2 separate regions of the Homo sapiens genome follow, and region 1 is linked to region 2. The links come from fine-mapping of genetic effects on plasma protein levels. Region 2 holds a variant in brackets. A gene starts in the other region. All regions are shown on their reverse strands.

Region 1 (5,364 bases), not on the chromosome of region 2:
TGATGGAGCAAGACTATGTGTCCAAAAAAAAAAAAAAACAAAACAAAACAAGGAAAGAAAATTACAGTCAAATATGCTCTATACATATTGATGCAAAATTCCTCAAAAAAATACTCGCAAGCCAAAACCAACAGTTTATTAAAAGGATTAGACATCATGACCAAGTGAGATTTATCCAAAGAATGCAAGGGTGGTTGCACAGCATTGTGAATGTAATAAAAGGAAATTGAATTGTACACTTAAAAATTGTTGACCAGGCATGGTGGCTCACACCTGTAATCCCAATACATTGGGAGGATGAGGCAGGAGGATTGCTTGAGCTCAGGAGTTCCACACCAGCCTGGACAACATAGGGAGACCCAATCTCTAAAAAAAAAAAAATTATTTTTAATTTAAAAATTAGTTGGGCGTGGTGGCATGTGCCTGTGGTCCCAGCTGCTCAGGAGGCTGAGGTGGGAGAATCCCTTAAACCTGAGAGATCAAGGCTGCAGTGAGCTGTGATGGAGCCACTGCATGCCAGCCTGGGCAACAGAGCGAGACCCTGTCTCAAAAAACAAAGCAAACAAAAAAAACAATGCCAGCTGCCCACATTACTGGGTGGAGCTATCTGAACCTTTACTAGTTCAGAGTGGTGCCTGATTCATGAGTCATTTCTTTGCTTGAATAAATGGTTAAATTTAATTTGTCTAAGGTTTTTCTTTTTAATAGCAGTAAACACTGCTCAGGTGCCACAACTGACATCCTTAACTGCAAACCTAAGTCCTTCAGGAGAGGTCATGCCTATCATTAAACTCCATGTGCCTTGCCCACCCCCTGTCCCCTGTCCCTTCAGCTCACCTTCCATATGTTGAGGGGATGAGCCTCCTAAAGTAACCGAATCTGCTTTTTTTTTTTTTTTTTTTTTTTTGAGACAGAGACTTACTCTGTCGCCCAGGCTGGAGTGCAGTGGCATGATCTCGGCTCACTACAACCTCTGTCTCCCGAGTTCAAGCGATTCTCCCACCTCAGCCTCCTGAGGAGCTGGGATTACAGGTACCCGCCATCATGCCCAGCTAATTTTTGTATTTTTGTAGAGACGGGGTTTCACCATGTTGGCCAGGCTGGTCTTGAACTCCTGACCTCAGGTGATCCACCCGCCTCGGCCTCCCAAAGTGGTGGGATTACAGGCATGAGCCACTGCACCCAGCCTGAATCTGCTTCTTAAGCTCACAAACTTCTCTGCTGGTTCCACTTTGGGGAATTACAAGGAATTACATTCCTTGGCTTGGCAAAGACCATTTCCAGACTGGTGCCAACATGTTCCTCCAGTCTATCTCAAAACCCTTCCCTGCATGAACACCAAGTTCTCTGCAGCTAGGCTGAGGGGTTTGCTCTTCTCTTCACATGCTCTGCATACATTGTAGTGGTCTCCAGCCCATTTCCCTTGGCAAACTCCTATGCGGTCATCAAGACTCATTAGGACTGGCGCAGTGGCTCACGCCTGTAATCCCAGCACTTTGGGAGGCCAAGGCGAGCAGATCATGAGGTCAAGAGATTGAGACCATCCTGGCCAACACAGTGAAACCCCGTCTCTACTAAAAATACAAAAATTAGCTGGGCGTGGTGGCGGGCACCTGTAGTCCCAGCTATTCAGGATGCTGAGGCAGGAGAATTGCTTGAACCCGGGAGGCGGAGGTGGCAGTGAGCTGAGATCACGCCACTGCACTCCAGCCTAGCGACAGAGTGAGACTCAGTCTCAAAAAAAAAAAAAAAAAGACTCATTACAAATGACACACTATTGTGGGTCTCCCTTAGTCCTCCCCAGACAGAATGGTTCTACTGTCCTGTGCTTCCGCTGTATCTCTTGCAGATAACAGTGAGAGGCCCTGAATTTCACACCACACCAGGGACAGGATCTTGAGCCATTCCATTTGAAATGTTAAGGGAAATGGTAACTCTCTGAGGTTGGTGGTCTTGGGGCCACCCAAGGAACCTGGCATCCAGGTTACAGGTGTGTGGCCTCGACTGTGTCCCTGGCCTTTGGGTGCCCACTCCCCACCCCCACCACCATGCTCTGAGGGAAGGGCCTGAGCCATTGGCACCAGCTGAGACTGTGAAATAGAAGAGGCAAAGTAGAAGCAAGGGAGGTGGCCACTGTGCCCTGAGAGCAGGAGGGGCAAGCGGGCCACACACAGACCAAGCACACGTCCCCTCAGGTGGCCACGCCTCAAAGGCTGGACTTTGGCCGACTTGGACAGGCAGGTGAGCCAGGCTGTGCCCAGCAAGCCGAAGGTGCCTGGGCTTGCTCATTCAGTCACAGTCACAGCCACCATGCCAGGGAGGACCTGGGAGCTGTGCCTGCTACTGCTGCTGGGGCTGGGACTGGGGTCCCAGGAGGCCCTACCCCCACCCTGTGAGAGGTAGGGGTGTGGGGAAGGCAGCAGGGGAGGATGGCAATAAGAGGGAGGCTGGGATGAGATCTCAAGCTCTGGGGTCGGTACTTCAGAGGGAAAGGAAGAGATTATAAAGGAAGGAAAGAGTAGGGAAGAGAAGAAAATGAGAATTCCTATGTAGCAGGCTCTGTGCTGGGCACTGCACCTGCAGTCCGTTTTTTTTGTTGTTGTTGTTAGAGTCTTGCTCGGTCGTCCAGATGGAGTACAGTGGCACCATCTCCACTCACTGCAGCCTAGACCTCCCGGGTTCGAGAGATTCTCGTGCCTCAGCCTCCTGAGTAGCTGGAATCACAGGCATGCACCACCACGCCCAGCCTGTCATTGATTTTTACCAAAATTTTCCACCGTTGGAAGGGACATTAGGCTTGGCGACTGTGCTGGGAATACAAGCGTGAGCCACCGCCCCCTGTCGGGACCTGCAGTCCTGATACCAGACGCAGCTGCCAGAGCCTGGCCTGAGGTCCAAGAGCCTGCTGGCCAGAGCCCGCCCTCCCTTCCTCTCCTCCTCCAAGCTGCCCCTTGAACTGTGCAGGCCTCTTCTCAGGATTGTTCTAGCAAACTTTCTGCTCCAGCTTCCTAGTCTGGGTGTGAGAGGCAGCCTAAGGGCCTGAAGACAGCACTTGGGCTTGAGCCCTGACCCTCATATTCTCTCTGTGACCCAGGGCAGGTCAAGGCTCTTTCCTGAGCCTGAGTTTCCATCACCAGGGACAGAGATGAGTGACCCTGTCCTGTCTCCTGGACTCAGGCGATGTCCACCCTTCGTTCCACATGGATTTATGGAGCTGTGGCCACATCAGCCACTTTACCAGCTCCTGCAAGAACAATAATAATAGAAGAAAAACAGCTGGGCACGGTGGCTCATGCCTGTAATCCCAGCACTTTGGGAGGCCAAGGTGGGAGCTATCATCTGAGGTCAGGAGTTCGAGACCAGCCTGGCCAACATGGTGAAACCCCATCTCTATGAAAAATACAAAATTAGCCGGGCATGGTGGCGCACGCCTGTAATCCCAGCTACTCGGGAGGCTGAGGCAGGAGAGTCGCTTGAACTTGGGATGTGGAGGTTGCAGTGAGCCAAGATCATGCCATTGCACTCCAGTCGGGGCAACAAGAGCAAAACTCTATCTCAAATAATAATAATAATAATAATAGAAGCAAAACAGTAACAGAAGCACAGTTTGAAGTAGAGAGAAGTTAGGGCCCGCTGGTGTGGGTGAGCAGAGGGTGTGTTAGAGAGGATGGGGAGGGACGGTGTCTCTGAGGAGGTGATGTGTAAGCAGAATTGTGGCAGGAACCATTGCTGAGCTGATCTGGGAGAGGACAGTCCAGGCATGGAAAGGGCCATGCAGAGGCCCTGACGCACTGTTCAGGGATTGGGACGAAGGCCTGTGTGATTGGGGCAGAGTGGGAACAGGTCCGGGGAGAGCGGGGCTCCAGGCAACAAGGTTTGGGCTTGGGTTCCAGTGGTTAGACTAGAGACAGAGACAAGGGGTTCAATAGAGGGTGTGTGTTACAGGGAGAGTTGACAGTGCTTGCCCATGACAATTGTGGAATATAAAGGGGAAAAGTGTACCTGGGATAATTAATAGGTTTTGTCCTGAGCAATTGTAATGAGGACTTCAGAGAGGCTGGGTGGTCCAGTGCTTTGTCAAGCATTAGGCTGTTTGCCAAATGTAGGGGAAGATGACTTTACTGGTGTTCCCTAAGACCAACCTCAGGCCAGTGATTCACTAACACTTCCAAATGGTTATACCATGATTATGGTTTCATTTTTTTTCTTTTTTTGAGACAGAGTCTCGCTCTGTCGCCAGGTTGGAGTGCAGTGGTGCAATCTCGGCTCGCTGCAACCTCCACCTTCTGGGTTCAAGCGATTCTCCTGCCTCAGCCTCCCCAGTAGCTGGGACTACAGGCACCTGCCACCACGCCCAGCTAATTTTTGTATTTTTAGTAGAGACAGAGGTGTTGCCATGTTGGCAAGAATGGTCTCAATCTCTTGTCCTTGTGATCCGCCTGCCTCAGCCTCCCAAAGTGCTGGGATTACAGGCATGAACCACCGTGCCCAGCCTTGATTATGGTTTCTTACAGTGAAAAGATACATGTTAAAGCCATCAAAGGTGAAATATTCTAGGGCCAAGTCCAGGAGAAAATAATCTCAATCTTCCAGTTTTTCCTCTCCCAGTGGATTTATATGGACAGGACTTGATTTTTCCAGCAATAACATGTGACAGCACGCATGAAGTATTGCCAATCACAAAAGCTCACCTGAGTCTTGGTGTCCAGTGTTTTTATTGGAGGTCAGTGATGAAAGCGTGGACTACCTGTGTGGCTGACCTCAGTTACTCACTCTCCAGAGTTCAAACTGATACTGGGCGGCCAAAGGCCCCTGCCACAAATCACATTATTAGCATCAAATATCTGGCATGGCCCAAGGCCCCAGAAAAACAAAGACTTATCAGGCAGCATATTTTGGTAATTTAAATCTCATCTCTCAGGGCTGGTCACAGGCCAGAATTTTCTCTGAAATGTGCAGGGTTTGAACACAGCAGACCTGCTGAGTCAATCCTTTCATGTATAAGCCACTTCTTGTATAATGAGGAATTAGTTTCATTTTTGTCTTGGGTTCCTCCAAAGTAACCTCTAAGCTCCTTGGAATCTCCCAAGTGATAGGAATGTCTGTTATTAATAGTGGTCCCTGATTAGTGTTTTTTTGTTGTTGTTTTTTTCTTTCTTTTTTTTTTTGAGACAGCAATCTAGCTCTGTTGCCCAGGCTGGCAGTGCAGTGGTGAGCATTTTGGCTCAATGCAACCTCTGCCCCCAGGGTTCAAGTGATTCTCCTGCCTCAGCCTCCCAAGTAGCTGGGACTATAGGCACGCACCACCACGCCTGGCTAATTTTTGTATTTTTAGTAGAGACGGGGTTTCACCATGTTGGCCAG
Region 2 (5,364 bases):
AGAGAAGCCAAGCAGGGGATGAGAAGGGATCAGGATAATTGAAATGGGGTGAGTAAAAACTTCAAAGAGTCAGGGAGTTTGGAAGAATTCTGGCATTGGGGCTTGGGCTCTCCTTGCCGTTTTGTGCTGTCTGGACACAGCCCTGGGATGTGAATGGTATAAAGCAGGGTCTGGGGGATAAGCTCCTTTCTCCTCTCACCAGTCTATTGGTCTAAAGAGCTTCAAGTTTTAAATTGAGACATTCAGATACTGAGGGAAGCAGTAGAACAGTATAGCAGTGGGATACCCCCAGGACCCTGCTAGAACTCAGACCCTGGTGGTTGAGGAGATGGGGGATGGGAAATGGAGGAAAGGGTGCAGCTCTGGGCACCTCACTGACGGTATCCTGCCCCAGGTCACATAAATTACTATTGGAAATCCCTCCCAGGATGCCAAATAAATAGATTGAGATAAAGAGGTCCCTGGAGTTGGGGATATAATCTCCCTCTACGAGGGAGGAGGTTGCTCTCTGAGACCCATCCTCAGTCCCCATTCAATACCAGCATTTGACAGTGCTAGGAGAGGGTTCTCAGGCATCAGATGCTATCCTATTCTAATTTGTCCCCTCCCCCATCCTCTCCCTGTTAACTTTGGTTTGAGACACCTCACAGGAATGGATGATGGGGAGGGACAACCCCTCCCATTTAGCCCAGCCCAAGTCCCCACAACAAGACATCTCCCTCCCCTCCCCCTAGCTCCCATCTCCCTCAACCCCAAAGGACTCAGCAGTAGCCATTCTCTAAAGGAGCTGGGGGAGTGGATCCTTGGGGAAGGGAGGGCGGCTCTTTCAGAACTCAATCTTGCAGGCAGGGAAGGACTCATCCTGCATCACCACGGTGCTGCTGCTAGCCAGGACCAGGACATTCAGTTGTTGCTGCTGCTCATGAGTTTGTTGGTACCACTCACGAGTCACCTCCGTGTCATGAGTAGGGATCAGAGTCACCTAGAAGGGAGATAAGATATGTCTGATGTGAGAACATAAAGGGAAGGTAGGTGAGGGGGAAGGGGCACCTCATGGTCTCAGAAGCAGCTCTGCTGCCCTTAGAAAAGGCCCATCCTTTAATAAATAGGGACTGTGTTCCACTACTGCCTCTGAGTGAGCGTTGACCAGACTACTTCCTTGGTGTCCTTTGCTACTCACCTGAAGATTCTCCCCCCACTGGGCCTTGCCCTCCAGCAGGGCATCCAGCACAGCCCGGCTTGGCTCGCCATTGGCAGGGTCATTCCCACTGACCACATAGTAGGATGCACGCACTCGACGGAAGAAGTCAAGGTCAGCAGTCTTGCCACTGCAATGATTCGGGATGTAGGCGAGATCCACATATACAGGGGCACCAGAGCTGCCCTTGGAACTCAAGGCCACTGTAGAGACAAGCCAGGATTCATTGTAGAGGAAAAGTAGAACCCTTTTGGCAACCTTCCCCTCTGTCCCACTCCTGAAGTCTGACCAGCCCACACCCAGCCCTAACCCACACTCTCTGCCAAGTTTCATGATATACTTACTTGGTCCTGCCTTGAGTCCATTGACTAGGCCTTTGGACATGGGGCTGTGTCCATCCTTTTCCTCTGCTGGGGTGACCTGGCTTGTGGTGCTGCGTGGTCGAGGTGGGGCCCGGGATGCTCGATCTGCAGGCCCTTTACCAGGGGTGGGTGAGCGTTTTCCCCGAAGATCCAGACGCCGTGCAGGGGACGCTGGCTTGGCCTTGCCTGGGGCCCTGCGCCCTACTCGCCCCTGAACCTTTTCCTTCTCCCGTAGCCTCTCTACTCTCCCAGACTCTGAGCTGAGCCCCTCGGGGTCAGCCATGCACACATCAGGGCGGGGAGGGGATGGGCGGGGGTCTGGCTGTGGGAGAGGAGGTGGGTCATGGCCAGGCCTGGGGTGGTGAGTACCACTGACACCCCCAGCTTTGTCCACAGGTAGGAAGTCTCCATCTTCATCTGAGTCGAGGGCTGCCTCAGCTGTGATGGACGGACACTCCTCAGTTTCTGGCGGGACATCAGAATCTGACTGTGAGGAGCCTGAGTCACTGGCTGATGTAGGGGGTGTCTCATCAGTCACAGGGCATGGGCCCCCAGTGGTCCCTGGCCCCCCTACCCGGCGCCGCCCCCCTCTTCCTACTAGCCGAACTTCCTCAGTTGAGAGGTCCCTATCATCTATGGATGGGGGCAGAGGTGGGTTCAGGAAGGATGGGGAGAGCTCCCCACGATGGGGCCGAGGCTCAGTGGCACATCCCTGGGGCCCAGCTTCGACCTCAGGAGAGGCACTGCTGGGTGGGCCCCCGGAGCCCCCTGCAGGACACACTGGCTGCTCAGGGGAGAGCAATGTGTCAGGCCGGGAGCTCCTCTCAGCTCCTTCAGGCCAGGCCCCACGTTCCCAGGCAGGGCAAGCCGCAGCCTCTTCATTTTCAGCCTTGGCTGGGGCAGGGCCTGGGGGGTTAGGGCTGGTTTCAGTTGGGCCATTGGCTGCACAATCCTCAGAGGGAACCTGGAAG[G/A]GGCTTGGCTTCTCCGTGGCTGCCTCTGAGCACTCCAGGTGGCACGGCAGGATGCCATCACCCATGTCTCCAGGCAGGCTTGGAGCTGGAGCTAGGGCCAAGTCCAGTGAAGCTGGGGGTGCTGGGCTCAGAGGAGTGAGGTCCCAGAGGCTGTGGGCAGCTGGTTCCATTCCTGGGTCCAGCTCTCCAGACTCCTGTTCTGCAGCCTCAAGGCTTGGAGAGAAGCGCTCCGCCACACTTGAAATCACAGGCGTGGTAGCCTCAGAGGAGGAGCCCTCAGACAGGGCTGGTGAGGCAGGTCGTGGCAGATTGGAGAGGAGAGGGGCCCCAGGAGAACTGGGTGATGGGAGCTGGGGCAGTGAGGAATCCAGGCTGGGGGCCTTGGTCACTTCCAGGTATTCATCATGCCGGGTTCTGGTGGGGGGTCCTGGAGCCAGAGCCAGAGCTCGATCCCCAGAGAAGGCAAGGGAGCCACAGGGTGCCGAGCGGGGTTCAGCTGGAGAGGGCAGCTGTGGGGGAGCTGGCTGCAATGAGGAGAAGCCAAAGGCTGAAGCAGGGAAGTCCAGACTGGGTCGGGCAGGCCCCAGGTGTGAGTCCAAGGGAGGGCTAACATGTGCCTCAGTTTCTGGCCATAATGTGGGGGACCCCATAGGAATGGGGTGAGGAGGACTTGGGGATTGGGCCTCTTTTTCTGGCTGTTCCCGAGCCCCCTTCTCCAGTTCTGAGTCACTAGTGCTGTCATCCCAGTGACTCCGGCCTGATTCCTTGGGGGATGGGGACCTCCTATCTGGGCTGCAGCTCAGGATGTTACCATTAAGAGGGGGGCTTGGGCCTTTGCTCAGGATAGGAGCACGGGGGGGAACTGCAGGTGGGGTGAGGCTGGGCTCCATACTTGGCCCTGGCTCTGGCCTTGGGGGTACAGTGGGTCCTGCCAGGGCTGCATAGCTGAAGGTTGGAGTGTCAGACTGGAGGCTCTTGGGTGAGATAGGAGATGAAAGCTCCTTCTCTGCAGATGTGTTTCGGCCGGCAGCTGCCTCCTTGGTTGAGAGGCATGGGGGCCAATCCCCAGCTGCTCCAAGTGGAGGCTCTCTAGTGGGGCATGCAGGGCCAAGCCCAGTAAGCATCATCTGCTCATAGATGTCTGCATACTGAAAGCTTCTCTCATCAGGATAGGGTGTGGGCTCTCTCTGCTCCGGCTCAGTCTGCTCAGGCTCCGTGGTGGCATGGCTTTTGCTGGCCTCTGGTACCTTTGAGCTGTGTGAGCTTTTGTCAGGAGCCTCAGCCCTACCTTCTTCTTCCCTTTCCCCTTCAGCCTTGCGGTAGTCCTTCCCCAGGGGGGAGTATGGCCCACCTTCCAACTCAGCTGCCCCCTCCTGCACTGCAGCCACCACACTGTCATACTCGGCTGTGCCCCAAGAGAAGGGTGCAGGAGTATGGGATTCCGGGGCAGGTGTGGGGGGACCAGGAGCTGGGGAGAGGGGTGCAGGGGGGAGGGGTCTGTCCTTGGGCACCCAGGGTGGGATGTCAGCCAGCCATGAGGGAGTAGTGGGTTCATTCTTCATGTGTGGCATGAGCTTAGGGTCTGGGATAGGACTCTCTTGTCCTGGGGCTGAAGGAACCCTTTGTCCAACCATCTCAGGTGGGGAAGCTGGAGGGGAGATGATCTCAAAGGGAGAGCGGGTCAGTTTGTCCTCTTCCTCTGGTGGCAACCCAACTGGTGATTCAGCAAGCCAGCGCTCCACCTCTAGCCCCTTCTGTGGTGAGGATTCCTGGAAATCCTTGAAGTCTGAGGCCCAGGGGCTCCGGGTTGCGTGTTCCCGCAGGGGTACTTCTTGCTCATCATCTGGGCCCTCATCTAGGAAAGTGCTTTCCCGTTCCTCAGTGTAGTGTGGGCGGGCCCCCTGGCCATCCAGCTCGTGAGGGAACCAGACCTTCCGCTCACAGCTTAGCTCCCTCCAGTATGTGTCCTGTTCCAAGGCCACATCCTCTCTGCCCCTCCAATACCTATTGTCCTGCTCAGGAGATGTGTCCTCCCATGCCGGGGCAAGCTCTTTCTGTTCTCCAGCCGGCTCCTCTCTGGTAGGAGATGTTTCTTGCCACTCCTGGACCACATCCTGCCCCCTCCAGTACTTTTCTTCCTGCTCTCTGGCCCTGCCCTCCTGCACTAGGCTCTCTTCCAGGCCCAGAGCTTTGGTCTTCTCCAGAAGAGCTTCTAACTTCTCTTCCATGGCCTTGACCTTTTCTGGGGATTTTTCCTCTAGCATCTTTGGTTTCCTGGTTTTATCCTCCTGCACTAGGCTCTCCTGCTCCTGAGTTTGGTGGTTCTCTTCCAGAGCCTGAATGTTTTGTTCCAGGGCTTCATCCTTCTGTCCCAAAGCCCAGTATTTTTGTTCTAAGGCCTGATCCTTCTTTTCTGAGACTTTATCCTTTTGTTCCTGGGCCTGGTGTTTCTGTTCAGGGGCTTTGTCTGTCTGTTCTAGGTCTCTGTCCTTCATTTCAGCGACCGTGTCCTCCGGAGCCTTATGTTCAACACTTCTGACTTTTTGATCTAAGGCTTTGTCTTTCTCTTCTGGGATCTTCTCCTTCTGTTCTAGGACCCTGTCCTTTTGTTCCAAGTCTTTATCTTTTGGTTCCAGGGCCTTGTCCTTCTGTTCCAGGGCTGTATCCTTTTGTTCTAAGGCTTTGTCTTTCTCTTCTGGAATCTTATCCTTCTGTTCCAGGGCCTTGTCTTTTTCTTCTAAGTCTTTGTCTTTTGGTTCCAGGGCCTTGTCCTTCTGTTCTAGGGCTGTGTCTTTTTGCTCTAAGTCTCTGCCCTTTTGTTCTAAAGCCTTAT

Which allele goes with the higher level. Alleles are on the strand shown, and positions count from the first base shown. The strength of an association depends on the size of the effect and on how common the allele is.
For the plasma level of the protein whose gene starts at base 2,288 in region 1, G is the low allele of the variant in region 2 and A is the other (weak association).

Evidence for each region. A credible set is the group of variants that fine-mapping cannot tell apart. PIP is the chance, under the fine-mapping model, that this variant and not a neighbour inherited with it causes the effect. The UK Biobank Pharma Proteomics Project read protein levels with antibody pairs (Olink). The fine-mapping took linkage between variants from a reference panel, not from the people measured, so its PIPs are less certain.
Region 1: TREH starts here. The variant in region 2 is the best candidate, but not a certain one, in a credible set for the plasma level of the TREH protein (UK Biobank, PIP 0.79).

What each region holds. Positions count from the first base shown.
Region 1 is chr11:118,676,574-118,681,937 of GRCh38, reverse strand. TREH (trehalase) reads left to right here and starts at 2,288. Exons shown (of 15, transcript NM_007180.3): 1 at 2,288-2,399. The coding sequence starts at 2,311. RefSeq lists enhancers at 1,737-2,396, 2,397-3,058.
Region 2 is chr15:43,525,687-43,531,050 of GRCh38, reverse strand. MAP1A (microtubule associated protein 1A) reads right to left here. Exons shown (of 6, transcript NM_002373.6): 4 at 1,543-5,364; 5 at 1,181-1,401; 6 at 1-982. The coding sequence ends at 827. Among named protein-coding and RNA genes, the nearest start is that of MAP1A, 11 kb to the right of the region's middle. RefSeq lists enhancers at 722-1,222, 1,223-1,723, 2,705-3,337. The variant G/A (reference allele first, on the strand shown) is at 2,532.